4 linked regions of the Homo sapiens genome follow. The protein of the gene in region 2 purifies or fractionates together with the protein of the main gene of each other region. This does not show direct contact. Each region holds a gene or a part of one and is shown on either strand. Other genes may lie near its edges. The genes, in order: GLB1L2, P2RX1, PRMT9 and OMA1.

What was found.
Region 1: the proteins of P2RX1 (region 2) and GLB1L2 purify together in Homo sapiens (affinity purification with mass spectrometry; 2 studies listed by BioGRID and IntAct, with this or other methods). This does not show direct contact.
Region 3: the proteins of P2RX1 (region 2) and PRMT9 purify together in Homo sapiens (affinity purification with mass spectrometry; 2 studies listed by BioGRID and IntAct, with this or other methods). This does not show direct contact.
Region 4: the proteins of P2RX1 (region 2) and OMA1 purify together in Homo sapiens (affinity purification with mass spectrometry; 2 studies listed by BioGRID and IntAct, with this or other methods). This does not show direct contact.

Annotation. Positions count from the first base shown.
Region 1 is NC_000011.10:134,362,965-134,369,995, reverse strand, and holds part of GLB1L2 (beta-galactosidase-1-like protein 2 isoform b precursor), read right to left. Parts: intron 5,669-7,031; coding exon 5,598-5,668; intron 2,740-5,597; coding exon 2,655-2,739; intron 1,353-2,654; coding exon 1,215-1,352; intron 192-1,214; coding exon 111-191; intron 1-110.
Region 2 is NC_000017.11:3,906,459-3,913,489, forward strand, and holds part of P2RX1 (P2X purinoceptor 1), read right to left. Parts: intron 1-7,031.
Region 3 is NC_000004.12:147,681,153-147,688,020, forward strand, and holds the start of PRMT9 (protein arginine N-methyltransferase 9), read right to left. Parts: upstream 3,012-6,868; 5' UTR 2,836-3,011; coding exon 2,647-2,835; intron 1-2,646. UniProt on the Homo sapiens protein: Arginine methyltransferase that can both catalyze the formation of omega-N monomethylarginine (MMA) and symmetrical dimethylarginine (sDMA). Specifically mediates the symmetrical dimethylation of SF3B2.
Region 4 is NC_000001.11:58,543,727-58,551,527, forward strand, and holds the start of OMA1 (metalloendopeptidase OMA1, mitochondrial precursor), read right to left. Parts: upstream 3,001-7,801; 5' UTR 2,977-3,000; intron 1-2,976. UniProt on the Homo sapiens protein: Metalloprotease that is part of the quality control system in the inner membrane of mitochondria. Activated in response to various mitochondrial stress, leading to the proteolytic cleavage of target proteins, such as OPA1, UQCC3 and DELE1.

The sequences.
Region 1 (7,031 bases), on a different chromosome or scaffold from region 2:
ACGCAGATCAACTGGGGTCGAGGTGGGACAGTAAGGAAGTAACTCTTTAGGGGTCTGAGAGCAGAAGCGAGGGCCTGAGTTGGAACTTGAGTCTGCTGTCTGCTGGGTACCTGAGATGGAGCCGAAGAAGTCTCGAAGCTTCATGTACTTGGCCGTGTAATCGCCGGCTTCTGTCAGCACAGCATCATAGTCTGCAAGACACCGGGCCCTGTCATGGTCATTCCTGTCCCCAGCACAGCACATGTAGCACGAAGAACAGGGAGAAGCTTGGAAGGGCCACAGGTCTTCATCTCAGCCATTGGGGAGGCAAGACACTTTTGAGCCATTCAGTCAAAATACTGTAAACATGAAAGACCAGGCAACTACAACAAGCGTCCATAAGGCCAGGTGCAGCGGCTCACACCTGCAATCCCAGCACTTTGGGAGGCCAAGGCAGGAGGATCGCTTGTGCAGTGGCTCACACCTGTAATCCCAGCACTTTGGGAGGCCAAGGCAAGAGGATCGCTTGTGCAGCAGCTCGCACCTGTAATCCCAGCACTTTGGGAGGCCAAGGCAGGAGGATCGCTCGAGGCCAGGAGTTCCAGACCAGCCTGGGCAACATAGCGAGACCCCCACCTCTACAAAAAATTTTAAAAATTAGCCAGAGGTGGGGGTGCACACCTGTAGTCCCAGCTACTCAGGAGGCCGAAGCAGGAGGATCACTTGAGCCCAGGTATTTGAGGCTGCAGTGAGCTATGATCACACTACTACACTCCAGCCTGGGTGTCAGAGTGATAACTCTCTCACAAATTCAAAAAAACACAAACTGTCCATGATCACAGCATGGCCCTAAATTTCTAGCTGCAGGTGTAATTTCTACTTTCTGGGACTCTCAACCTAAAGGAGGCAGGATCACACCTCCTCAAGGGCCTGGGCAGGGAGGGGAGGCCACCGTCCCTCCCTGTCCCCCTAGGGCGGTCTCCTTCCACTTCCTCAGGCCAACCTTTGCCAAAGAGGCCTCTCTGTAGAGTGACCAGCTCACAGGCACACCACCTCCCTTGAGGCTTCCCTCCTCTGGGAGTGTAACATGACTGTCCAGGCAAGTACCTTCTCCAGGTACTCTATTGCCAAAGACACGAAGGTGCCAGAAGTTGACCCTGAGGGCCTCTCCATAGCAAGTCCCAGCCATGCCCATGCAGGGCAGACCAGGGAGAGCAGTGCTGATGAATACTTGCCATAGCTGGTGACATCTGACTTGTAGTCATGGAAGTGCATGGCTCCATTCATGAAGCCAAAGTTGGTGCCTCCGTGGAACATGTAGAGGTTGATGGAGGAGCCGGCGTCCACAATGGCAGACACGGTTTTCAAAACCTCTGCCGGAGGAGGGAGAAAGGGGATGTGCAGAGTGAGTTAAAGTCTGAGATGAGCCGGGGTCCCTTCACTACTCTCCTCTTTCCCAGTCCCACCTCAAAACCTCAAGGCCAACTTTGTCACTCTGTCCTTCTAGCTCTCATAAAACCCCAATCACAGAAGATTAGGGGTGGAGGAGGAAGTGTGGGCCAGAATCATGGCCCCAGAGCTCGAGCCTCCAGTTGTCTGTCAATCCTGGTCAAGTCTCTGAGCTCCATGTGGACCACCTGCAGCCCAGGTCGGCCAGGGCCTTCCAGCCAGCACAGTCTCCATGTGAGTCTGCCTGACCAGGTGTATCAAGTGCACAAAGATGGGATGCATCCTTAGAGAGAAAACTCTGACACCTCCTATTCTACCTTTGTTAGGAAATGAACCATGACATAACAAGATCATAGCAAAGGAGAAAAACAAATGGTTAATAAATATATATTTTATCAATATAAATCAAAGAAATGCAGACTAAACAATGATGTACTGAGTAGACAAATATTAAAAGTTATTTTAATACTCGGTGTTGCTGAATCTGTGGGAAATGGGTGCACCCATTCAGCAGCAGCGGCTGAAGCTGCCGTCTTTCCGGGGGCTGAGGGGCGAGCATGCACATCTACACGGTGCCGAGGAGCCCCTGTGCCGCTCATCCCAGGGAAAGCCGGGTGCGCAGAGCGCAGGCTCCGGGATGCTCACCGGGATGCTCGCCGGGATGGCGTGCGCTTAACAGAACCACCAGAAACAACCCGGGAGACTGTGTCCACAAAGTGTGGTTTAGAATGGGGCTCTTCACATTCTTTAAAACAGTCATGTAAATCTGTATTTGGTCATACAGAAAGCTGTCCGTATGTGCATTAACTGGCACAAGCAGGTGACATGCAGCGGAGTGTGATGGCATCTGTCTCTATCTGTGTGTGCGTATAGAGCTGTCGGCAGAGATACAGAGAGAACTGCCTGCGTGGTAAACAGCTAAGTGTTTTCTCTGTGCTCTGGGAATTTTATTTCTTCTCTATACTTTTTCTGTATTTTCTGGATGTTTGCAATAGGCATGCATTACCCTTCTAATTACAAAAACACGAACAAGCAATGTTAAAAGCCCTCCCATTCATCCAAGTGTCAAGACAAATGACTCAGGAATATCCAAAGCCAACTTCTGCACACAGATAATCCCAGCAGCCTTGCACCCCCTATGGCTTACATTAGTTAGCAGGTGACTGAAACTCATCCTCACTTCTTAAGTAGCACACATTCTGGATGTAGTCACCGCAAGCACTCACCAGAAGAATCCAAGATATTGTGAGGGCCTCCCCACGAGTCAAACCACCCCGTCCAGTACTCCATCACCATCTTGGGCTGAGTCCCCTGGACACCACAAAATGAGAGTTAGACAAGCAGGCTGGCCAGACAAAAAAGAGGGAAGCTCTTCATGGAGGGGAGCCCCAGGATCTCTGCCCTCTCTACTCTTCCCTGTCTGCATACCCACTGCCTTAGAGGTCTTTGGAGGTGGGGCATAGGTGAGGGCCAAATTCGCCTGCACACCAGTTCTCCTGCCACATGTGGCCTCCTGCAGGTATAGAGCAGATAAAGCTCCCAAAGTCGATATGGCAAACCCTGATGGTTTTAATGTTGCATACGTGTTAGCAAGAAGACACTGGTCCAGGATCAAGCCAAGCTTTGCCTGTCCTCTTCCAGGGAAGGGGGATGTTTTACCCAGGACAACTCCATATCTGAGAGGGATACTGTGGATGCAGATCCCTCCCCCCCACCCTGGGTACTGGCTCCATTAGCAGAAAAATCAGACGCTGCAGAGTGGGCCCTCTTCAAGGTCCAACTCAGTTTAAACAGCAGTTTGCAGCATTTTCTGAACCAGAAAATCAGGGCCTTACAGCACAGCTATTCATGGTGCAGGTTCTGCACTGACAGTTTGGATTTATACCTTGGCTGGGCCACTCAACAAATCTTAAATCTTCTTTCTGAATACTGACTTTGGCATAGGACGGCCCCAAGGAGGCCAAGATCATTCCTGGGACCATGCTCCACTCTGCCACGTTTGCAGAAGCCCAGAGCACCTGGGGGAGGTGTAAAGACTAACACGCTAGTATTTCAGGCTCTGCATGAGAGAGCCTTCCTCACTTATTCAGTGACAGCTTGTCAAGTATCTCTAGGTCAGTGATAGCCTTATGTTTAGAGGGATACCGCATACACAGCAACAAAATCTGATCCAGGGGGATGGGACAAACTCACGGTCCATTGAGTAGAAGGTACCAGCCATACCCGGGTTAAAGCCAAAGTAGTTACAAGAATTCTTCTAGCAAGACTGGCGGCTTGGTTTTCTTTACAAGCCACCTACCTTCCAAGAAGGAGACATACCATACCACGTTTAAATCACTAAAAAGGGAGAAGCAGATTCAAAGTCCCACAAGTCAGAAATCTCCCATGCCAGAAGCAAGGTTGTTGGCTTGAGGGTACCAGAGCTGCGGAGGTGGGTGTCCACCCATGGGCCAGGCCACTGCACTGCACAACTGGCTAAGAGCTGGAGCTCTGTAGTGAGACTGTTCTGCAGTCCCCAAGCCACTACTTACAGGGTGTCTTATACACTCTATAGCTGTCTCCTTCACTGGCTCATATGACTATTGGGAGAATTAAACGGGAGAGTGCACATAACACCCTTAGCACACTGTTCCTGGCAGGTAGGAGGTGCTCAAGAAACACTTGCATAGTTCTGTCCATCACGGGTCATGGACACAGAGGACGAGTGAGGTGCTATCGGACATCGCCACATGGAGCACACCTGGAGGCCTGTGCTGTGCATTCAGAGAGCCCTTGATTTAAACAGGGAGGTGTCCAAGTCCCCTTCCTTCAGGAAAACAGACATCTCTGGACTGCGCACATAAAGCCCTTCAGCAGGGCCATTCTGTTAGCAGGACAGCTGGCCTGGGAAGGCTCGCGCGTGGCTACCCCTCTAAGGATGACCTTGAAGGCTAAACATAAGGCATTCTGCTGTATCAGCTGCTGTGCTAGGCACTTTCCAAATATTACCTCATTTAATCTTCAAACAACCCTGTGAGTTGACACCATAAGGAAATGTACTCTCATCATCCCCACTTAGAAGAAGAGAGACGCACAGAGAGGTTAAGTAACTTGCCCAAGGTCACACAGCACAGGGCAGGAGACCCTGTCATCTCAGTCACAAGTATGAGAGGCACCCCCCACTCCACTGCACACATGGGCAGGCACTCAGGAAATGCCAAGAAAGGAAGGCAGAGACCCAGCTGGATCGCGCCTGATCTGCGTCACAGGAGCCTGCCTGGGAGCGGGGCCAGCCCTCCCACCTCCTCCTGGGAGCCTCCTCGCCTACTCTGGCAGCTGAACTCCAGGAGAAGCCACATCAAACACACACACGGCCCCACACGGCTGTGGTGGCTCCACGCAGATGTGCCTGAGGACACAGCCCCTGCTCTGAAAGGCCATCAGCCGGAATGGAAAGCAGCCCAGCGTCTCCACAGCCATCCATGCCTGTCCATCCAAGCACAACTCCACTCCAGGCCCAGGACCAGTGTGACGATGCAGCGTGGGGGCAGTCTGGAGCATCCACGCCCCTCAGTGAGCCAGGGGACAGCTGGGGCCTCTCAGGTCTGCAGAGGGCTGCAGCATGGCCCTGTCCATCCACCTGCTTCGGAGGGGCACGCGAGCTCGAGAAAGAGGCCAGTCAGAACTACAGGGTGGCATAAATGCCCATCAGTCTGACAGATATTGAGGGACATCTGGAAACTCCTCCCTCTCTCCGCACCTGGAGTGGACCAGGCTTTCTGCCTTGCTGATGACAATAATCTTTCTAGGATTGCAGGGGCCTCACAGGTTAAGGTCGGATGCCTGTGTAGTATAGGACAGGGAAGTTTTTCCTTCCCCCCTCAATCCCTGGGAGCAAGTCTGGAGCTAGTTGAGGCCACAAAAGTCGAGTCCTCTAGGAGTGCACCAAAAGGGCCCCTCTCTCAGGGCAGTGGGTGATGTCCACACTGCATCAGCCTACACAGCAGCCCTCAGAGGTGTTTCTGGGCAGCGGGCCTTGCAGGCACACAGTGGCATGGGCGGGGGGCCAGAGGCCATCAGCCCTGAGTCCAGCTCCCTGCGCTGGGGAAGCTGAGCACGCTGACAGGCATTCAGAATTCCCATAGGCCGCTGAGCAGGGCGGGCCGCAGCTTCCCTGGGGCTGGACTTACCTGGACGTTGAAGAGAAAGGTGGTCAGTAGCTGCAGCTCGTGTGTTGACTGCAAGTTGATGGTGGCCAAGACTGTTAAAGGGAAGAGGAGAGAGAGAGACAAAGCACTGTCTCAAAGCCAGGGACCTTCTAGGTGACCCCAGACCCTTCTCAATCCACCAGCACAATAAAGTAAGCGGCCCTGACACCGTTTCCCACCTCCAGTTAGAAGTCAGCCACAGTCAGGCGCGGTGGCTCACACCTGTAACCCCAACACTTTGGGAGGCTAAGGCAGGTGGATCACTTGAGGCCAGGAGTTCGAGACCAGCCTGGCCAGCATGGTGAAACCCCCTCTCTACTAAAATACACAAAAAAATTAGCCAGGGTTGGTGGTGCATGCCTGTAATCCCAACTACTTGGGAGGCTGAGGTGGGAGGATCACTTGAACCCAAGAGGCAGAAGTTGCAGTGAACTGAGATTGTGCCATTGCACCCTAGCCTGGGTGACAGAGTGAGACTGTGTCTCACAAAAATAAATAAATAAATAAGTCAGCCAGGACGCCAGGAGACTTATCTTGTTGTCTTGGAGACTCCGCCACAGCAGCACAGAGCTGAGAGGCAGTCACTCGCTGTGCACCTGATCTCAATCAACTGTGACTTCTACAAGCCGAGCATGCACTCTGTTCCTTGTTCTTTTGTACGAACCAGAGCCTGATCCTTCCTTGGCACCCCAAGCATCCGGTCCAAGGTAATGATGTAAACAAAGATTCCTCTCTGATTTCTTGATAAGGGCTAATTCTGTATTCTACCCCATAACATGTTCCGTTTAAAATTTAAAATGCTATTTTCAGTGGCTTTCTATCAGTGAAACATATGCTCAAGAAAGGTGCGCTCTGTTTGGCTGACACCCGGGCATGCCCACGCCCACCCCAGTGGCACAGCCTTATCCTGGGGCCCCTCACCTGCCTGCTATCTGCCTAACAGTCAGTTCACAGGCACAGCCTAGGCACACACCAGAGAGGCTGAGCCAGCCTGGCAAGCCAGGCCACCCTGATGCTCTGCTGCAGGACGAAAGCCTCTGATTGCCAGTGAAGGAACGCAAGCGACAGCTGGGGCTCCGGGGAAGTGAAATAACTTGCCTCTAGGTCACAATAATTGGCCTCAGGTAGCGGCAGAGCGGGACTGCACACCTGGGTCTCCCTGACACCATACCATAGCTCTGCCCTGTCCCTGCCCTCCAGCAGCCCACTGGGTGGGACCCTCCACCCAGACCCCTCCCCTCAAGCCAGAAGCCCTTTGAAGACAGGAGGCCAGTCTGAAACTGAGCAGGCTGAACTCAAAGTCCGCAGGATGCACAGGGCTAAGTGAACACAAGCATCTCTGTCCTGTCCTTCCTGATACGTCTCACAAATACAAGCGGAGAGTGGACAGGTAGACGGCCATGAGGAACAGCAACA
Region 2 (7,031 bases):
TGAGTGAGTTCATACATGTAGAAACACTCAGAATGGGGATGGCACAGAATAAATGCAGTATAGACATTAGTTGTTATTATGATCCAGCCATGCTGGGACCCCCTGGGAGACAGCGAGGAAAACAGAGCAGGGAGGTGGTCCTCTGGAGGGCTTGCAGCGTCCAGCCCCTCGGTCGAGGCACTGTGGGAGTGGCTCAGTCGGGAGGTCTTCCAGTTTTCTTGGGAAATTCTGGCCTTGCCTTCCCAGCATTGAGCTGTCCCGTTCCTTTGGATTCTCCACTTTCAGTCTGGAAGGTTCCATGAGGCTAACCTCCCTCTTAGCCCCAGGAGTTGGGCAGATAACCAAGGCTTGCCAATCAATGTTCCATCCCCCTAGTAACAGTGACGGGTCTAAGGACACGCACATGACCTGAGGAGTTTCAGCAATGAGGCCAGGACTTTTCTGGGAATTGCCAGGAAAGAAACATCCTGTCTATTGAGTGGCTAAGCAGGGTGGCTGCAAGACGAAAACTATGGTAGTCATCTTTGCCACCTTCTGGAGAGAGCAATCCTGACAATGAAGCTCTCCTAGAGGAAAGCCAGGCCAGGAGATAGAGAGGGGCAGAATCCTGACAATGTTGTTTGAGCACCTGGATTCAGCCATACCTGAAGCACAGTTGAAAAATCTACTTCTGGACTTTTCAGTTACGTAAACCAATAAATGTCCTTCCTTTGTTTAAGCCAGTTCGGATTTGGTTTCTGTTGCTTGCAAATGAAATAGTCCTGGATAACACTCCTCTCCAGGCTGTGGCCCCTTCCTCGAGGAAAGACTCTTTTTGGAGATTCAGGGTAACGTGTGTGTGTGTGTGTGTGTGTGTGTGTGTGTGTGTGTTGGGGTATGGGGTGTGTGGCTGTATACCTGCAGGGCAAATCTGTGAGTGCACCTGTGGCCAGATGTATCATCCCCCTCCACTCCTTACCCTACCCCGAGCTCACCTGTCCAAGGGGAGCTCAAAGCAATGGACTCCCTGCTCCTTCCCCCAGGGCTCAGATCTGGTAACAGAACTCTCCAGGCCTCTTAGTCCCAGAGTCACCTCTCTCCCTGCTGCAGGCCCCAGGGAGGCCACCCACCAATGTCCTCTTCTTTCTTCTCATGGCCCACCCACCTCTTCTCTAAGCCCCCTCTCACCTTGGCACTGGGGCCAAGTCACATGCTCCCGAAGCCTAAGCTTGGTCACTGCTGTCCCCTGCAGGTCCCAGATAGCAACAGGTGGAGGCATGACAAAGGCCTCTGATCCTCAGTGTCCTGAGTCTGTCACGCTGCCTCCAGCCCCATCAGGGAGAGCAAGAGCATTGCCCATCCCCCCACTGGCCTCCTTGGGCCCCTTCCTCCAGGAGGGCCTCTGGTTCTGTGTCCAAGCCAGAAGGAGCTGATGCAGGGGGGAGGAGGAGTTTCTCCTTGTCCTGGGCCCCTCTGCAGGACAGGCCACTGACCTCCCTCTCGGCACCTTCAGCCCCAACAGCTTAGCAACGTTTCTATCTTTGCCCAAAACGAACTTTCTACCTTTTCCCAAGAGACAGGGAAGCTGAGGCCTGCAGGAGTGGCGGTCTCAAGTGTCCCCATGCTTGAGGCACCCAGCCCAGGACTCAGCCCACCTCCACTGAGCAACACTGGCTTCGACGTGTCTCCCAGGAGGCAGAGCACAGAGGGGAAACAGAGCCACCTGGAGCCCACAAGCCGGGGCTGATGCACCTTGGAGCTGCCGGTCTTGAGGTCGAAGGGAAAGGTCGGTCAGATCTGGCATTCATGACCTCAACTCTGGTGATAATAGAATGACTATGGGCTGGGCGCGGTGGCTCATGCCTGTAATCTCAGCACTTTGGGAGGCCAAGGCAGGTGGATCACCTGAGGTCAGGAGTTCAAGACCAGCTTGGCCAACATGGTGAAACCCCAACTCTACTAAAAATACAAAAACTAGCCGGGCATGGTGGTGGCGGGCACCTGTAATCCCGCTACTTGGGAGGCTGAGGCAGAGACTCACTTGAACCTCAGAGGCGGAGGTTGCAGTGAGCCAAGATTGCACTCTGCACCCCAGCCTAGGCGACAAGAGTGAGACTCCGTCTCAAAAAAACAAAAAATAATAATAGAATGACTATGGTGCCAGGCCTGCTCCTCCAAAGCCATGCCTTGATCTGGCCTTATTGTCACCACCCTGGGAAGACAACCAAGAGGGCCTGATGTCAGACACAGGCATCTTCAGAAGCCTCTCCCCTTCCAGAAATAACCCTCACCATGCTTTCTACCTCGTCATCAGCAATCCCCCATCCTGGGGCTCTCCAATGGCCTTCTCAAGGAAGAGGCCACAGGGTGGAGTGGCTGAGGGTCAGGTGCCAGCCCTGCTGCTCCCCAGCTGTGTGGCTTCAGGCTAGAGACTACACCTCTCTGAGCCCTGGTTTTCTCAATAAAACAGAGGTGACGCCACCTACCTCAAAGGCGCTGCTTATTCATTAAGTGTTTAGTGAGGCTCTGCTACAAACTCAGCCTGGGCCCCAGGAGACAGAAGCATCTAGGTAAGTGTTTGGGGGAAGCTTCTATGAGTTCTTTTTTTTTTGAGATGGAGTCTCAGTCTGTTGCCCAGGCTGGAGTGCGGTGGCACGATCTTGGCTCACTGCAACCTCCACCTCCCGGGTTCAAGCAATTCTCCCACCTCAACCTCCCGAGTAGCTGGGACTACGGGCGCGCCCCACCACGCCCGGCTAATTTTTTTTATTTTTAGTAGAGAGAGGGTTTCGCCATGTTGGTCAGGCTGGTCTGGAACTCCTGACCTCGTGATCCGCCCGCCTCGGCCTCCCAAGGTGCTGGGATTACAGGCGGGAGCCACCGCGCCCGGCCTCTATGAGTTCTTAAGGAAATTAGCACAGTGCCTGGCACTCAGTGGGCACATATAATGAAAACCTCCCATTTTCACTGTTCTCCGTTCCTCCTTCACAAATTCCTCTTTCAATGTTGATCCGCCCCCATTCCCTGAGTGAGCTGCCTCAGACACGCTGTGTCCCCAGAATTCTATCTCCAGACTGCACTCTCCCCTGAGATTCAATTCCACACATTCAATCATTCAACAAACATGAGCCGGGTGTGGTGGCTCAGGCCTGCAATTCTAGCACTTTGGGAGGCTGAGAGGGGAGGATCACCTGAGGCCAGGAGTTAGAGACCAGCCTGGGCAACATAGTAACACGCTGTCTCTACTAAAAAACAAAAACAAACACGTATTTATCCAGCCCCTATTCATGCGCCAAACACTGTTGAACAAAACAAACACAAAAGTGAACAAAACAAACAAAAATCTCGCACCCAAGGGTCTTACACAGATGCTCCTCAAATGACGATGGGGCTATAACCTGATAAACCCATCCTGAGTCAAAAGGCTCTTAATACCCCCAATAAACCCACCATAAAGTCAAAAAATCCTAAGTCAAACCACGCTAAGTCCAGATGCTCCTCAATTTACAATGTGGTGATGTCCTGATAAATTCTTTTTTTTTTTTTTTTTTTTTTGAGACGGAGTCTCGCTCTGTCCCCCAGACTGGAGTGCAATGAGGCGATCTAGGCTCACTGCAACCTCTGCCTCCCGGATTCAAGCGATTTTCCTGCCTCAGCCTCCTGAGGAGCTGGGATTACAGGCGCACACCAACACGCCTGGCTAATTTTTGTATTTTTAGTATAGACGGGGCTTCACCATGTTGGCCAGGCTGGTCTTGAACTCCTGACCTCAGGTGATCCACCCACCTCTGCCTCCCAAAGTGCTGGGATTACAGGCATGAGCCACTGTGCCCGGCCTACGAAATCTATTTCGTGCCAAGCACTAACCACTATACAGACAGAAATTCAATTGGATCAACCTGAACTCTTCATCTCCCTTTAGAACTTGTTCCCCTGTGTCCTCGTCATGGAGAATGGTGCTGTCCTCACCCTATCACCCAGGCTCAACACCCAGGCAGCATCCTCACAGCCACCCTCCCCATCATGCCCCCACATTCATTGGATCCCCCAGTCCTTCTGGTCCTCCCTCGGCTTTCATCTAAGGACCCAGAAGGGCTGGTTTTGGGAAGGCTGAGACACTGGAGGAGCTGGGACAGGTGCGGGGGCAGCTCTGGCATGGGTTGGGAGGACCGGCCAGGTGGCTGGTGGGACACAGGGTATGGCCATGGGCCACAGGCAGGAGTTGACCAGATGGGGCGTGTGCTGTCAGGGAGCAGCAGCCTTGGGGAGGGGCATGAGCAGACTCCAGGCCTGGGAGGGAATGTGCTCAGAACTGGGGCCCACCCTGAGGCCCCCATGCAACCCGCAGACAAGTCGAGGGGCATCTGGGTTAAGTTCCTTGAGTGCAGGATCTTGGTTTGTTTTGTTCACTTCTGTATTTTTAGTGTCTAGAATAGTGCTTGGCACATAATAGGAACTCAACAAACACTGTGTGTTGAATGACTAACTGAATGTGGAATTGAATCTCAGGCCAACCATTTGTGTTTTTAATTATTTTATTTTTATTGTTCTTTATTTATTTTTGAGACAGGGTGTCACTCTGTCCTCCAGGCTGGAGTGCACTGGTGCAGTCGTGGCTCACTGCAGCCTCAACTTTCCAGGCTCAGGTGATCCTCCCACCTCAGCCTCCTGAGTAGCTGGGACTGACTACAGGCACGCGCCACCACACCTGGGTAATTTTTTTTTTTTTTTTTAGATACAGGGCCTCACTGTGTTGGCCAGGCTGGTCTTGGACCCCTGAGCTGAAGTGATCCGCTCACTTTGGCCTCCCAAAGTGCTGGGTTTACAGGCGTGCACCATGGCACCCGGTCTGTTTTTCTTTCTTTCTTTCTTTCTTTTTTTTTGAATACGTCACCAATCTCTAAAAACCAAGCGGTTTCTTTCATGCATAAATCTCACTTCCCACTTCTCTTGAGACGTCGGAAGCTCTGGCTGTGCCAGGTGTTACGTGCTGCGGCAACAATGGGCAGAAGCTGAGCAGGGGCCGCCCCAGGCGTGAGGCCTGCCGGGGTGACGACATCTGTCACCCGTGCTCACTGCCTCTGCCTTGGGTCCCGCCCCGTCCCCCCTTCCCATCCCTGCGGCCTCTTCACAGCTGTCCTGCCTCCGGTCCCCACGCCCACCCCTGCCTGCTCCAGGCCCTCCCCTGCTAGACATCCTGTCTTGGCTCCCTTCTGCCTGCAGAAGAAATCCGGGCGCCTCAGCCTGGTGTTCAAAGGCCTTCGCCATCGCCCCTGCTCTCCCTTTCACAGCCTCTCCCTTGGGCTCCTTTTATGGCCCCTTCAGCCTAGTCCCAGTGACACCTTCTCTATTCCTCTCCGGCCCCAAGACCTTGGTTCACACTGTGTCCCGACAGGAGAGCCTGGAAGGGTGGGCACGCAACCAGGCTCCTCCAATCAGGGCATTCCGTTTCCTTGACTGCAATGATTGATTGGTTCTGGGGTGGGCACGGGACCCGACCCCGGCCAATAAGAATTGAACCTGAGACTTTTGCTGGAGCTCTGGAGAAGGAGCCACTCTTGTGCCTCGGGAGTGGCTAAACTGGTGAGATGTTAGCTTGGAGCTGCTGGTGGCCGTTTCACCACTGTGAAGACAGAGAACTTGCCTGAGAATGAAGCCTCCACAGAGGAAAGAAGAGCCAGGAAAGGGAGATAGGTCATGGGCAGCTTCTTTTGAGAACCAAGACTGGACCCGCAGGAATTCCTCATCCCCTCTCCCCTCTAAACCTTACTCCTCCTGTGTCTTCATCCTGGAGGATCCAGCCGGGCCTGAAACCCACACTGATTTTTCAGTTACATAAACCACCGGATACCCCCACCTTTCCTTTTATTTATATATTCATTTATTTGTTTGTTTTTTTATTTTTTTTTTTGAGACGGAGTCTCACCCTGTTGCCCAGGCTGGAGTGCAGTGGTGCGATCTCGGCTCACTGCCATCTCCGCCCCCCAAGTTCAATCGATTCTCCTGCTTCAGCCTCCCGAGTAGCTGGGATTACAGGCGTGCGCCACCACACCCAGCTAATTTTTGTATTTTTAGTAGAGATGGGTTTTCACCATGTTGGCTAGGCTGGTCTCAAACTCCTGACCTCAAGTGATCCACCCGCCTTAGCCTCCCAGAGTGCTGGGATTACAGGCGTGAGCCAACGCACCCGGCCCACCCTTCCTTTTAAATCTGTTTGATTAGACTTTTCTCACAGGAACCAAAGGAGTCTGGCTAATTCACCCTCAGTTCCTCCCTCTCCCTCTCTCCATTCCATGTCCCACCTCTGTTCCCCGGCACAGCACCAGGCATGGAGAAGATGCTGCAGAAACGGTCCCTGGATGTGTTTCTCCCCCCAATAATTTCTATCCATCCTTCTCCCTGATTGGTGCACTCTGATCTCCACTTGGAGATCTCAGAACATGTGATTTCAAGAGGTCTGTGTGGAGGCGCAGGGGATGAGTGAGGACTTAGTTGAGAAGAGACCCAGAGGGACTGGAGAGAAAGCTGAGAGCAGGCCAGCCCAGCCCACAGCCCCCAGGTCTTTGCTTATGGCTGGTTCCATCAGTGTGTCACCTCCTCCAGGAAGGCCTCCCTGGCTTCCTCCCCACTGCCTGTACACCACCAGGGACAGAGAGCTCATCAGCTCTTCGGGGAGAGCTCTAACTGAGACCATCTTTTTTTTTTTTTTTTTGAGATGGAGTCTCACTCTGTCACTCAGGCTGGAGTGCAATGGGGCAATCTCAGCTCCACTCTGCCTCCAGGGTTCAAGTGATTCTGCTGCCTCAGCCTCCCAAGTAGCTGGGATTACAGGCGTGCACCACCACACCCAGCTAATTTTTTCTATTTTTAGTAGAGACGGGGTTTCACCATGTTGGCCAGGCTGATCTCAAACTCCTGACCTCAGGTGATCCTCCCACCTCAGCCTCCCAAAGTGTTGGGATGACAGGCATGAGCCACTGTGCCCAGCCTTAACTGAGACCATCTTAACTGGATCTGAGAGGGTCAGCTCAGCTCAGCCTTCTGGTCTCAGG
Region 3 (6,868 bases), on a different chromosome or scaffold from region 2:
CACAAAGTCACCTTATAATGGTACCTTAACTCCACATACACTGTTTCAAACCTAGCCAATGCTCTCTCAATATCTTTAAATCTGTTACCTCCTCTCCATTCCCACAGTTACAACCTAATCTGGCCCTTGTAACCACTTGCTGGACTACAGCAACAGCCTTAACGCTGTCACTCTAATTCCAACTGCATCTCCCTCCATCCATTCTCCATGCTGCAATACTGTGGAAAGAGGGAAAGCTTTAGTCATTAAAACATTTTAAATCATCTTCACATATTTTATACAAAAGCGTTGATATTTGGAACTGAATCTTGAGGGAGTTTACTAGAGAGACAAGGATAAGAAAGGAGATTCTGGCCGGGCACGGTGGCTCATGCCTGTAATCCCAGCCCTTTGGGAGGCCAAGGCAGGCAGATCACCTGAGGTCAGGAGTTGAAGACCAGCATGGCCAACACGGTGAAACCCCATCTCTACTAAAAATATAAAAATTAGCCAAGCACGGTGGCGAACACCTATAATCCCTGCTACTCAGGAGGCTGAGGCAGGAGAATTGCTTGAACCCAGGAGGTGGAGGTTGCAGTGAACCGAGATCGCACCACTGCATTCCAGCCTGCGTGATACAGTGAGACTCTATAAAAAAAAAAAAAACCCCGCACAGATTATATGAAATGGATCAGAGGGTCTACAGATAAGTGGCTTGGTGTGGCCGGAGTTTGGGTATGGGGAATAGAGTAGCAGGCAATGAGCATTTTACAGGGGGCCCATACAAACAAACACAGACTTTGTTCGGCAGGAAACAGACTAGTTGCTTACCCTACTGAATGTCAGGCATTGCACTACAAATTTTAAATATACTTTTTTATTTTTTCTTTTTGAGATGGAGTCATACACTGTCGCCCAGGCTGGAGTGCAATGGCACAATCTGGACTTACTGCAACCTCCGCCTCCCGAGTTCAAGCAATTCTTCTGCGTCAGCCTCCTGAGTAGCTGGGACTACAGGCACATGCCACCACGCCCAGCTAATTTTTTATTTTTATTTTTTTTTCTGAGACAGAGTTTCGCTCTTGTTGCCCAGGCTGGAGCGCAATGGCGTGATCTCGGCTCACCACAACCTCTGCCTCCCAGGTTCAAGCAATTCTCCTGCCTCAGCCTCTCGAGTAGCTGTGATTACAGGCATGCACCACCACGCCCAGCTAATTTTGTACTTTTAGTAGAGACGGGGTTTCTCCATGTTGAGGCTGGTCTCGAACTACTGACCTCAGGTGATCCACCCGTCTCTGCCTCCCAAAGTGCTGGGATTACAGGCGTGAGCCACCGCGCCCGGCCTAATTTTTTAATTTTTAGTAGAGACAGGTTTTCACCATATTGGCCAGGCTGGTCTCAAACTCCTGACCTTGTGATCCACCCGCCTCCGCCTCCCAAAGTGCTGGGATTACAGGCCTGAGCCAGCACACCCAGTCTAAATATACTTTTAATACCCAGTAAACATTTTTAAGAGAGGCTGCGTCCCTGTTTCACAGAAGAGGAAACTAAGAAACAAGTAACTGAGGAAAGATCACTTGAGTTGATCCATTTTTCTATTGCTGCCTACCAAGAGAAGCAAACTGTATCTCAACATATCATCTCCTCCTCAAGTAGGACAGCTGGTCCTGAAATTTACACTAAGTTTACATGAACTACAAACATCTAGACGCTACTGACATTTAGTGGGTAGAGATCAAGGATGCTGCCAAACATACTGCAATGCACAGGACACCTCCCCTCCCCCATAACAAAGAATTATCCCATTCAAAATGTCAATAGTGCTGAGGTTGACAAACCCTCAGTCTAAATGAAGCAAAGTAATTGCAATTTTAAGTTAAATCATTTTTCGTAATTTAGATTCTAAAAGTACTTCAAAAAAGAACAGCATTTCAACAGAGTAATTGTTGCAAATAATCCAATAATTGAAGTTTAAAGAACGCATCATTAAATGATAATCACTTTAGGCTAATTACACACTTTATTCAACTAGAGGCCCACTATATTCCTACTACACACAATATAACAAATCCAAAAGCCCTCAAGCCAGGGCATGCTTAAATTAGATATAAGGAGAAGAGGATCACGTGAGACCTCATTTCCAATTCGAGGGCCTTTAAAATTTTAAACGAGATGAAAGTTTTGAAACTGAGAAATGACAACATTTGACTTTTGTTGCAAAAAGCTAGCTATGTTGACACAGACTGCAGGAGAGAGCTCAGTTGAGAGCCGACTGCAACAGCCGGCAGATGACTGAAGCTCGAACCAGGGTAGTAAAGGGGAAGATGGTGAGAACTGGTAAGATTCTGGACATATTTCGAAGGTGAAGACGGCAGGATTTTCCTCTGGGCTGGTCGTAGGTGTGAATAAACGAAAGATGTCAAGGTTGAACAGTAAACATTAATAGCAAACACCCAACCAAGCACCCTAGCCCCTCCGCCTTTTTTCTTTTCTTTTTTTTTACGAGGACGTTGGATCGGCCAGCAAGTGAGAAAAAAGGGCCCTAAATATTAACAGCAACCACCCACCCAGGCACCCTAGCCCCTCCGCTTTTTTTTTTTTCTGTTTTTTTTTTTTTTTTTACGAGGACGTTGGATCTGCCAGCAAGTGAGAAAAAAGGACCCTCACCTTCACGTCGTGTTTCAGCTCCGGCGCCAGGCTGAGCACGAGGAGGTAGTGGGCATAGGCAGTGCCGAAGTCCTGGACGCCCAGACAGTGCTCTGCGCTCTGCAAGGACCGCGACACCAGCTCGTCCCGGCCGGCTGCCCCAGCGCCACCCCCGGCGTCTCGGCGGGACCTGGGCCGCGAGTTCGACATGGCAGTCACCACTTGTATGGCCAAAGGGAAGATATTTTGTAAACGTAATTAGAAAACTCTCTCGATGCTACACTTCCAGGGACCAGACAACTGCTCAAAAAACAGCACAGCAAAGTTACCCTCCGCCGCGGGTGAACTCGCCAACCCCAGCCCAGGCGGAAGCTCCGCCCCGTCCTGGCCCCGCGGGCGGCGCAGACCGTGACGCATACCCCACTATTGCGCACCTGGCCAGCGGCGCACGCTACGCGAACGTCAGCGCGCCCGACGTGGGCACGTCACTGCTGCCCATTCCCGCAGGAGCGACCACTGTGCGTGAGCATAGGAGAACGTCTGTGGCAGGACCTGTCCGGTCTTGCGCCCTTTTTTTTTCCCGGCTGAAAGCAGAGCTTTCTCTCCCTCTTGCACTCCGGGAGTGTGTGGCTTTCGACTGCAAGACCCTGTTGTACAGACCCAGGCAGCGCGAAGCGCCACCCGCTCATGAGGGACGGTCAAGCATTTGTGATGATGCTTAAGACATTTTGGATCGTGATGCACAAAATTTCAAGACCTGAAAGAACCTGGAGATAACAAAAGCATCTCAGACGTGGTAGAGGAAATGCTTTCACAGGCATTTCAAATCATTCTCACAAAACCTGGCTAGGTGGACCTTTGGATCACACTCGTCTTAATGATGGCAAACGTGGTATCTTGAGAAGTGACTTGCTGGAGGTCACACAACCAGCTAGTGGCATAGGCATGGTTCAAATCCAAGTTCTCTGACCACCTATCTGTTCAGTTATAAGATGAGCTTAGGGGTTATTTCACTGTTCGTGTCTTATCACTGTATAGTGTTTACATTAATACAAAGTTTTTCCACATTCAAGTGTGGCCTCTAAGATACAGATTCGAAACTCAAAGGGAGGGGAGCATAGTTATTACGGCTGAAAAGTTATTTTTGTCCCCATTTTCAAATTCATTAATGGATAATATCTTAAATCGAGCATTTTGCATATCACACTAATACATTTTGAGGGCTCCTCTAATTCTCAAAAACACGTCATGCATTTTTGCCTTCTCTTCTGATCCAATTATCTGAACTACCCTTTTTTCTGAGCACTCGCCTGTGTAAATCCTAATCCGTTTTTCAGGTTCCAGCTCACTACATTGTGAGCTATTCTTAATCACTTTTGTGACCTTTGCACCTAGCGGATTATGATGCAAAGTAAGGACTTTGATTTTTTCTTCTTTCTTTTCTTTCTTTTCTTTTTTTTCTTTTTTTTTTTTTTTTTTTTTTTTTTTTTTTTGAGACAGAGCCTCACTCTGTCGCCAGGCTGGAGTGCAGTGGTGCGATCTCGGCTCACTGCAACCTCTACCTCCCAAGTTCAAGCGATTCTCCTGCCTCAGCCTTCCGAGTAGCTGGGATTACAGGCATGCACCACCACGCCCGGGTAATTTTGTCTTTTTAGTAGAGACAGGGTTTCTCCATGTTGGTCAGGCTGGTCTCAAGCTCCTGACCTCAGGTGATCCGCCCGCCTCAGCCCCCCAAAGTGCTGGGATTACAGGCATGAGCCACTGCACCAGGCCAATTATTTGCATTTTTTCGTGGTTTATCTATAACTTCAAGATTTTCTGTACATAGAATAGGTCATTTGAAAAAATGGAATGACACAAATAACATGGAACATCTGGTCACCTTAAGAAACTGGAATTGGCAACAGCCTTTCATGCTAAAAACTCTCAATAAATTAGGTATTGATGGGATGTATCTCAAAATAATAAGAGCTATTTATGACAGACCCACAGCCAATATCATACTGAATGGGCAAAAACTGGAAGCATTCCCTTTGAAAACTGGCACAAGACAGGGATGCCCTCTCTCACCACTCCTATTCAACATAGTGTTGGAAGTTCTGGCCAGGGCAAACAGGCAGGAGAAAGAAATAAAGGGTATTCAATTAGGAAAAGAGGAAGTCAAATTGTCCCTGTTTGCAGATGACATGATTGTATATTTAGAAAACCCCATCATCTCAGCCCAAAATCTCCTTAAGCTGATAAGCAACTTCAGCAAAGTGTCAGGATACAAAATCAATGTGCAAAAATCACAGGCATTTCTATACACCAATAACAGACAGAGAGCCAAATCATGAGTGAATTCCCATTCACAATTGCTTCAAAAAGAATAAAATACCTAGGAATCCAACTTACAAGGGACGTGAAGGACCTCTTCAAGGAGAATTACAAACCACTGCTCAATGAAATAAGAGAGGACACAAACAAATGGAAGAACATTCCATGCTCATGGATAGGAAGAATCAATATCGTGAAAATGGCCACACCGCCCAAGGTAATTTACAGATTCAGTGCCATCCCCATCAAGCTAACAATAACTTTCTTCACAGAATTTGAAAAAACTACTTTAAAGTTCATATAGAACCAAAAAAGAGCCCGCATTGTCACGACAATCCTAAGCCAAAAGAACAAAGCTGGAGGCATCATGCTACCTGACTTCAAACTATACTATAAGGCTATAGTAACCAAAACAGCAAGGTACTGGTACCAAAACAGAGATATAGACCAATGGTACAGAACAGAGCCATTAGAAACAATACCACACATCTACAACCATCTGATCTTTCACAAACCTGACAAAAACAAGAAATGGGGAAAGGATTCCCTATTTAATAAATGGTGCTGGGCAAACTGGCTAGCCATATGTAGAAAGCTGAAACTAGATCCCTTCCTTACACCTTATACAAAAATTAATTGAAGATGGATTAAAGACTTAAATGTTAGACCTAAAACCATAAAAACGCTAAAAGAAATCCTAGGCAATACCATTCAGGACATAGGCATGGGCAAGGACATCATGACTAAAACACCAAAAGCAATGGCAACAAAAGCCAAAATTGACAAATGGGATCTAATTAAACTAAAGAGCTTCTGCATAGCAAAAGAAACTACCATCAGAGTGAACAGGCAACCTACAGAATGGGAGAAAATTTTTGCAATCTACCCATCTGACAAAGGGCTAATATCCAGAATCTACAAAGAACTTAAACAAATTTACAAGAAAAAATCAAACAACCCCATCAAAAATTGGGCGAAGGCTATGAACAGACACTTCTCAAAAGAAGACATTTGTGCAGCCAACAGACACAGGAAAAAATGCTCATTGTCACTGGCCATCAGAGAAATGCAAATCATAACCACAATGAGATACCATCTCACACCAGTTAGAATGGCGATCATTAAAAAGTCAGGAAACAACAGGTGCTGGAGAGGATGTGGAGAAATAGGAACAATTTTACACTGTTGGTGGGACTGTAAACTAGTTCAACCATTGTGGAAGACAGTGTGGTGATTCCTCAAGGATCTAGAACTAGAAATACCATTTGACCCAGCCATCCCATTACTGGGTATACACCTAAAGGATTATAAATCATGCTGCTATAGACACATGCACTCGTATGTTTATTGCGGCACTATTCACAATAGCAAAGACTTGGAACCAACCCAAATGCCCATCAGTGATAGATTGGATTAAGAAAATGTGGCACATGGCCGGGCACGGTGGCTCACGCCTATAATCCCAGCACTTTGGGAGGCCAAGGCAGTCGGATCACGAGGTCAGGAGATCGAGACCATCCTGGCTAACACGGTGAAACCCCGTCTCTACTAAAAGTATAAAAAATTAGCCAGGCATGGTGGCAGGCACCTGTAGTCCCAGCTACTTGGGAGGCTGAGGCAGGAGAATGGTGTGAACCCGGGAGGTGGAGCTTGCAGTGAGCCGAGATCATGCCACTGCACTCCAGCCTGGGTGACAGAGCGAGACTCGTCTCAAAAAAAAAAAAAAAAGAAAAAATGTGGCACATATACACCATGGAATACTATGCAGCCATAAAAAAGGATGAGCTCATGTCCTTTGTAGGGACATGGATGAAGCTGGAAACCATCATTCTGAGCAAACTATTGCAAGGATAGAAAACCAAACACCACATGTTCTCACTCATAGGTGGGAATTGAACAATGAGAACACTTGGACACAGGAAGGGGA
Region 4 (7,801 bases), on a different chromosome or scaffold from region 2:
TCTGGCAAAGGGATATACAAATTTAAAAATAATAATAAATGCTACCTAAAAACTTCTGTATAACAGAGGTGGCAAACTCAAACGTCTAAAGAAGCACCATACAACAGACCTTTCTACAATGATAAAAATGTTCATGTCTGCACTGTCCAATAAGGTAGCCCCTACATGTGGCTACTGAGCATTTGAAATGTGACTGGTGCATCTGAGGAATGAAATTTTTAACTCAGTTAAATGGCCATATGTGGCTAGTGTCTACTGTATCGCACAGTACAGGTTTGTAGGGTCCAGGCAAGTGAATATCAGCAAAGTGATACTGATGTGAATGCAGATTCATGACCATCTAAAGGAGGTGCAAACAGTTATGATGGAATTTGAACTTGCTGTGGCCAAATGATTCAAAACTTTTAAGTAAAGCCAGAATTTCAGATTTTAGGTGAAATTTATCAATTTTTAAATGTTGGCAATGAACTTAAAAAATTTTAACGACCTTAACCAAACATTCAGATTTTGTATTTTTGACCTCTGAACTGTATTATTATTCATTCATTCTGAAAATGTTTAATGAGTGCCCACTAAATGCTAGGCACCATAATGGATGCTAGAGATACTGCAGAGAACAAAACAGATTTTAAAAAACCCTCCCCAATTTGCAAAAATAGTAATGAGAAAATATGCTAGTATATACAAAAATAAATCTGAAAAAAGATACACCAAACTATTCACAATTATTTTGAATGGCAGGATGGTGGTTAAGAGGGATTATTAGTATTTTCACCTTATATATTTCTGTGCAGTTCAAATTTCTACGGGATGTATTATTACTTTTTTAAACCTCCACTCAGGCAACTATTTCTGTAATTCCCATTGTTTTTCTTTTCTTTTCGAGACAGGGTCTCACTTTGTCGTTGTCCAGGCTGGAGTGCAGTGGTGCCACCTCGGCTCACTGCAACCTCGCCTCTTGGGTTCAAGCAATTCTCGTGCCTCAGTCTCCTCAGTAGCTGGGATTACAAGCATGCATTACCACATCTGGCTAATTTTTGTATTTTTAGTAGAGACGGGGTTTCGGCAAATTGCCCAGGCTAGTCTCGAACTCCTGGCCTCAAGTGATCTGCTCACCTCGGTCTCCCAAAGTGTTGGGATTATAGGCCTGAGCCACCGCACCTGGCCAGCCCAGCTAATTTTTTAATTTTTTTCTGTAGACACGGTGTGTCACTATGTTGCCCAGGCTGGTTTTTAACTCCTGGGCTCAACTGATCATACTGCACTGCGAAGTGTTGGGATTACAGTCATGAGCCACCACGCCTGGACTTTCGTTGGTTTTCCATGGCTTCCACAAACTCCTTCATATGGCGAACCAGGCCCTCCTACTACTTCTCCAGGCACCTTCCCCAACCCTCCTTCACCCATTCCTAAATTCCAAACTCCCTGATTTACTTACACCCCACAGAAAAAGAAAGCTCTCATCTCTATGTCTATGCACATCTATTCACACTGCTTAGCTCTGCACATGACAAGCAAACTCCTTCTCATTTCTCATGACTTGTGTAAAAATTTTAAAAGAATCCTATTGACACAGAAGGTATAAGCAAAAGCCCCAACACTACGCATATATAATTAAAACCATTATCATTTCTATCACTGACAACCAAGTGTCGTTTTGAATAGAAACAGTGCCTGATATTTTGTAATACCCGGTTTATCCTGAAGAAAGGGTAAAGAATGAGGGAAGAAATCTATTCATGCATTTTCAAGGAGCCAATCACTAGACTACAGAGCACATAAGAAAAAAAAAAATCAGGGCTGACATATTCTCTTCAAAGAGCTGTGGCAGGTCAACAAACATAGCTGGCAGACTTCTAGGATAACAAAATTAATGATGTGAGAAAATTAAACAATTTGGATTGTTAGCCTCTACGAACATTTCAGATCCTTAATTCTTTAAGTACCATCTCCGAATGAGCAAGTGCAGCACTCACTGGCACTCACAGCTGAAGCCTGGAAGACAGTTTTAACAACTCTTGCTGAAAATGACTATTTCTTCTCTAGTTTCTATGGAAACAGCTGTCAGATTGGCAAAAATAGGACATGTACTTTAAAATAATCATTCAAGCAAAGTACACACATGATGGAAGGCTTTAAAAAAGAATTGGACGGCAGCAGACTTGGTTCTTAAGCTTCCAAATGTCAGACTACACCCCTTCACCCCGGCTGAGAATGACGGAGATGAACCTAAATCCTTTTAGCGAGGGTTGCACGACCTTGATCAACGCCTGAATGCCAAATAAGGGATTTTCATCTCCCTGGACTACAATTTCTTGTTGAGGATTGCACGGCACAATAAAACTGTTGCTCCACACACAGGCGACATTTAAACAGTATACAGTGAGTTCTGTAGACGAGTTTACGAGGAAATTGTTAAAACTCCCCGGAACTGCTTAGACGGGGAATGTTCTGGTTTGCCCTGCCGAGTTTAGGCTGGAAAACGTGTTCAGTTTCTCCTGAAGAGGGAAGGGGTGAAAGAGACGAATGCCCGACGCGCCGGGAGGCGGTCCCCTCTGGCAGAGGTGCCGGGTGAGGAGCCCGAAGCCCCGCGGGTGAGAAACCCTGCTCTGAAAGCGGAGCCGCGGATAAGGGCGGGCTGAGGGGGAGGGCAGGCGGCCCACGAAAGTACTGCCACGGGGCAGACACACGGGGTCACCGGCGTGCCCCGGGCAAGGCTAGGGGAGAACCGGGCTCCCCCAGGACAGATCCCCTCCGTCTCCCGCCCCGGCGCCCCCCGCCCCTCCCCTCCACGCAGCCTTATCGCCCACCCACGCCTCCTCCCGTACCCCCATCCCCAAGGATCCCCACTCCTTGCCCGGGCGCCCCCGCAGGCGCTCTGCGCTCCGCCCCCTCCCCACTGCCGCACTCTGCCTCCTCCCCTGGGCACGATCCTACTCGGAAAAGCTGGGGAAAAGCGTCACCGTGAGGACTGACTCAAGCAGAAGCGAAAGCGGTGACACCGCAGACCCGACCTATGCGCAGGCGCGCACCCGCACTTCCTGCCCGCCATACCGGCCGGGGCGCCCTTCGCTCCGCCCACACCCGGCAGTCAATACAGCCGCCCAGAGTCGTTCTCCCAGCTGCCCCGGGCCCCGCGGAGACTGTGGCGCTCTAGCGCCTCCGTGTGGCTTAAGGCGGGACATGGCCCTGGGCTGGGCTGCTTGCCTAGGAACAACTTTCTCCCGTCTTTGGTGAGTTGGGTCCTCTAAAGAATGATCCACGCAAGGCTGTGTCCGTTGTAGTCTCTACGGCAGTACCGGCCAAAAGGGAAGAGACTCGAAGACTGCCAAAAGACGAAGGCTTCCTGGTTCTGAATCTGCATTCATAGAAATAGTCTTTGGAGTATGGGAACAGTGCTTTCATATGATTTTTGGAGGGACGCATTTTAAGAAAGATGAAGTATAATCTTAAGTGTCTGGAGGTTAAAGTAGCTGGCTCCAAAATTATGTGTATAGTATGTTTCATTCATTTCACCAAAACATATTTCTTGAGCATCAACTACATTTTAAGTGCCAAGGATGTAGCAGTGAACAAGACAGACCTGAATTTCGTGAACTTTATATCACAGTGAGGAAAGACAGGCGATTAAAAAAAAGTGTACAAATAAACACAAATAAATAAAAGTGTACAAATAAGCCAGTACAAATAAACACTGGATTGTGATGGATGAGTAGTGAGGTCTCATATTAGTTTATTATGTTTACACTCTGTGCACAATGAAAACATCTCAAAGGACATAAACACTATGTCAAAGGACATAAACACTATGAACAATTTTAGGTATCTCTTTTGGAAAATGTGTAAGTTACTGTTTCGTTTATCTTATGTGTATTTTATGATTTGCCTTTTACTTTGAAAGGGATATCCTGGAAAACCCCTGACAACTGGACCCCTAAAAACTGAAGTAGGAGGTCCTTCAGTCTTCGTAGGGTTTATCTCCCAAACTCTGGAGTGCACATGTCTTACCAAAGTTTCCAGCATGCTAGCCACCTCTTGCTCATCTTGCCTGGTTAGCATAATGTCATTGGTGAAATAGATGGGTGTGATGTTCTCTGGAATTTCCAGTTGATCCAGCTCCTTTTGGACTGCGCAGAGCCATTATGTCATTATCCTGGGTCCACCTGATTTCCAAAGGGGCCAGACTGGCAAGTTAAGTAGAGATATGGCAGGGATGACCAACCACTCTTGTATATTTCAGGTCTTTAATTATGACATTAATCTCCACCATCATCTCACTATCCCCTCAGATGAAATATCGGTTTTGATTTATTATCTTCACTTGGAAAGAAGGACAGCTTCAGAGGCTTCCCATTGGCTTTCCCCACCATGATAACTCAAGACCAAGGACCCTGAGCTTCTTACCAATGTGGAGATTGCTCCAGCTGCCCAATATGTACTCCCAATTATGCACTCAGGAACTAAGAAAATGACTACTGGATGGGTCAGTGTATTCCTGGACCCACTGTAAGCTGGACATTATCCAGGACTCTGCTTATTACCTGATCCCCATAAGCCCCCACACTTAGAGAGGAGCCATGTGTGTTACATACTTTGGGTAACACCTGTGAAATGTCTGGGTATTCCTCTTTCCTCAACATAAAATCAGTCAAGAAAATGGCCGTGGGACACAGACCAAAGAGTAATCATTAATTACAGTAAATATTTGTTTCAGTATTGCAGGATTCTTCTTTATAGGGACCCAACAACCTCTTAAGTCAACAGATTCTGTGGTCTCAGTGTGAAGATAGGCTCAGGTCTGAGACTTGAGCAATGAGCAGTGCCTTTTATTAAGCAACTACTCCCTGCATAGGATAAATAGCTTCTTGTCTTCCTCCAGTTGTAGATGTTAGGCAACACTCTTGTTGGCTGCCCGTCTGTTTTTCCCCTAGGGAGACCTTATGCTATTAAAGCCCTCCACAACCTCCTGTGGATCAAGCCCCCTTGGCTGCTCCTCTGCCCTTGGCAGATGTTACAGTAATTACATCTTCTGGTGTCCTCATGGTTAAAGCCACCACCTGGCTTCTACTACTTCAGGATCCTGTTATCCCAATGGATATTATCAAGCCCAGCCCTGTGATTGCCTCTCCTACCGTCAGCCCTTCCCTCCAGAGGAGAGCCTTCTCTGAACTTCTTAGTGATGCTAGTGCCCCTCACGCCAGTGCATTCCCCATGGCCATAGAATATGATGCATCCTCTGGGCCTCCCATGGAACATTCCCCTCTGTCTGCCTTCGGGCTCTACACACAAAAAAAATTCTTTCAGGCAAGTCCACTTCCCTCAGCTCCTCTGTCCTTCTACCATTTGCAAGGGCAATTCGGGCATTCCTGCTTTACTCTGCATGCACTATGGCTTTCTCTCAGCTTCTAATAGTCACCTAGCAGTGAGTTTACCCATCTTCTACAGTCCCAAGTCCCAAGAAAGTGCCCCCAAGACAATGAATTTTTATTTAGCCAGGCTTGTTCTGGAATAGGAATTAAAAGAAATTAAAGAATGTGTAAACAGAAACTCAGTTCTATGTAAGAAAACCCACCTCCCCCCGAGAAAGAGAAAGAGCTGGAGTCCTTTAAATATTAACTGCCTGTTTTTCTGTGGCTAGTGAGCCTTATCTCTCCCTTTCCCAGGCATTGTAAAGACCCTGTTTCTTTAGCTGTGCGCTGCAAGGTCACTAGACAGATAAACTCAAGCCATTAAGACACGTTTTTCCTTGAAAAGTAAGAAATGATGTAATGCATGCCTCAATTAATTAAATAACTGTCTTTGTTTCTTGCTTCTGTAACATGCTTCTCCCTGCACAGATCTCCCCCAACCCCATAAAATGCTTAAAAGGTAACTTGACTCTTTGTTCGGGGCTCAGTCCTTTGGATGTTAATCCGACTGGGCCGGTGCACCTAAATAATAAATCCTCCTCAACCTCTTGGTATCTCTGATTCCTTATCAATCCCGCCACAGTTCCTGCCCACTTTGATCAAGCACCTTCAGAAATCCCATTCCAGGGGTCCTCTCCTGGCTCCTGCTGGTACACGCTAGGTAGTTCCTTTAGCTCCTACATTATGCAGTCTTCCTCCCCACACCTTTACAGGCCCAACACACAGGCAGCTGGGTGATGCTGGAATTTAACCTGAGTTATCACCCTGGCAGATATCTAAGAGGAGATGGGGCAGGTCCTGAGTGGGCACCTATTTATTCCTTACGCTAGAGGCTTCAACACTGCCTTCCCACTTAAGGGAAGTGTTAGCTTTGACTAGGGAAGGGTCAGCCACCTCTGCAAGCTCTGAGGATCTGCAGTCAGTATCCTCAGGGATTCTATCAGGATGTCCCATTTCATGCTTCAAGATTCCAGATTTTCCCAACCAGGGCCCAGACCTGCCTTGGCTAAGCGTTTAAACATCTCTGGGGCTCTACAACTCTTTTCATGAAAATCTCTTTTGCTCCTCTGCTGTCCACACTCCTCCACTGCAGGTGATAAGAGCCTGTCTGTTACCTACCAAGGAGACCTCTGACTCCCACTCAGCCTTAACTGTTTACAAATGACCCTCACTTTCTCATTATCCCATGCAGGGCATCAACACAATGTAGCAATAACCAGCCCACTGCACTGTTCTTTCAGACACTGCTCCCTCCATCTTTCAAGTGCATTAACTATCTCACCTAAATGGCATTGCCCTCCACTGGGCCAGTTTCCCAGGTCGCCATCACTGAAATCCACACGGGGGCCACTATCTTGTGCCAGACACTATCCAAGACCCCACATTCCACTCAAGATGGAGTTCTTGTAGCCAGTTGGGCAATTAATGAGCCACTCTCAGAGCCGATCTTACCATCTTCTTCTCAGATCACCCCACTTCTAGTCCACCTGTATCAACAGGCCCTCTAAAAAGCAGATGCCAGGGTGGAATCAGATGTGCAAGACATATTTACTGCGTGGAAAATCCTGGGAAGGATAATGGAGCAGGAGCAGGAATAGACAGGAAGGGCCCTCAGATCATGACACTGGTTAAAGGAGAGAGGGAAAGAAGAAAGACTGGATTAGAAGCACCTCAGGTAGTAGCACAGTTCTAAGAAGGTTTTGAAAATGAGGAGTCCTTAGGCCAAAATTGCCTGCTTAGAGGAGTTCCATATTTTGCAGAGATGGGCATCCACTAGTGTTCACACCATGCATGATCATTGGCTAAGAGCAGTCTATGGGGAGCATGCGCTTGTTACAAATGGAGTTGGGGAGCCAGAAGGTCAGGGGCAGGGCCTGGCAGTCAACTATGCTCCCCAGAGCAGATCTGAGCGGCACATTTTCCCGGTCACGGCTGCTGGAGGATTTAGAGTTTGAATAAGTCCTCTGTTCTGGCTGTACATCTTCTTTGTGCTGCCCTTTAAGCAATTTTTTAATCAACGTGCTATGGACTGAATGTTTGTATCCCTCTGAAATTCATATGTTGACCCCTAAATTCCCAATATTAACAGTATTTGGAAATGGGGGCCTTTAGGAGGTAATTAGGTCATGGGGGTGGAGCTCTCATGAATGAGATTCAAGTCTGTAAGGAGATAAAGGGATCAGAGAGCTCCCACTCTGCCACGTGAGGATAAAACAAGACAGCTGTTCGTACACGAGGAAGAGGGTCCTCACAAAATCCAACCATGCTGGCATCTTCATTTCAGACTTTCAGCTTCCCAAACTGTAAGAAAAAATAGTTTGTTGCTGAAGCCAGTCAGTCTACAGTACTTTGTTGTAGCAACCTGAACTGACTGAGACACATGATCAGATTCC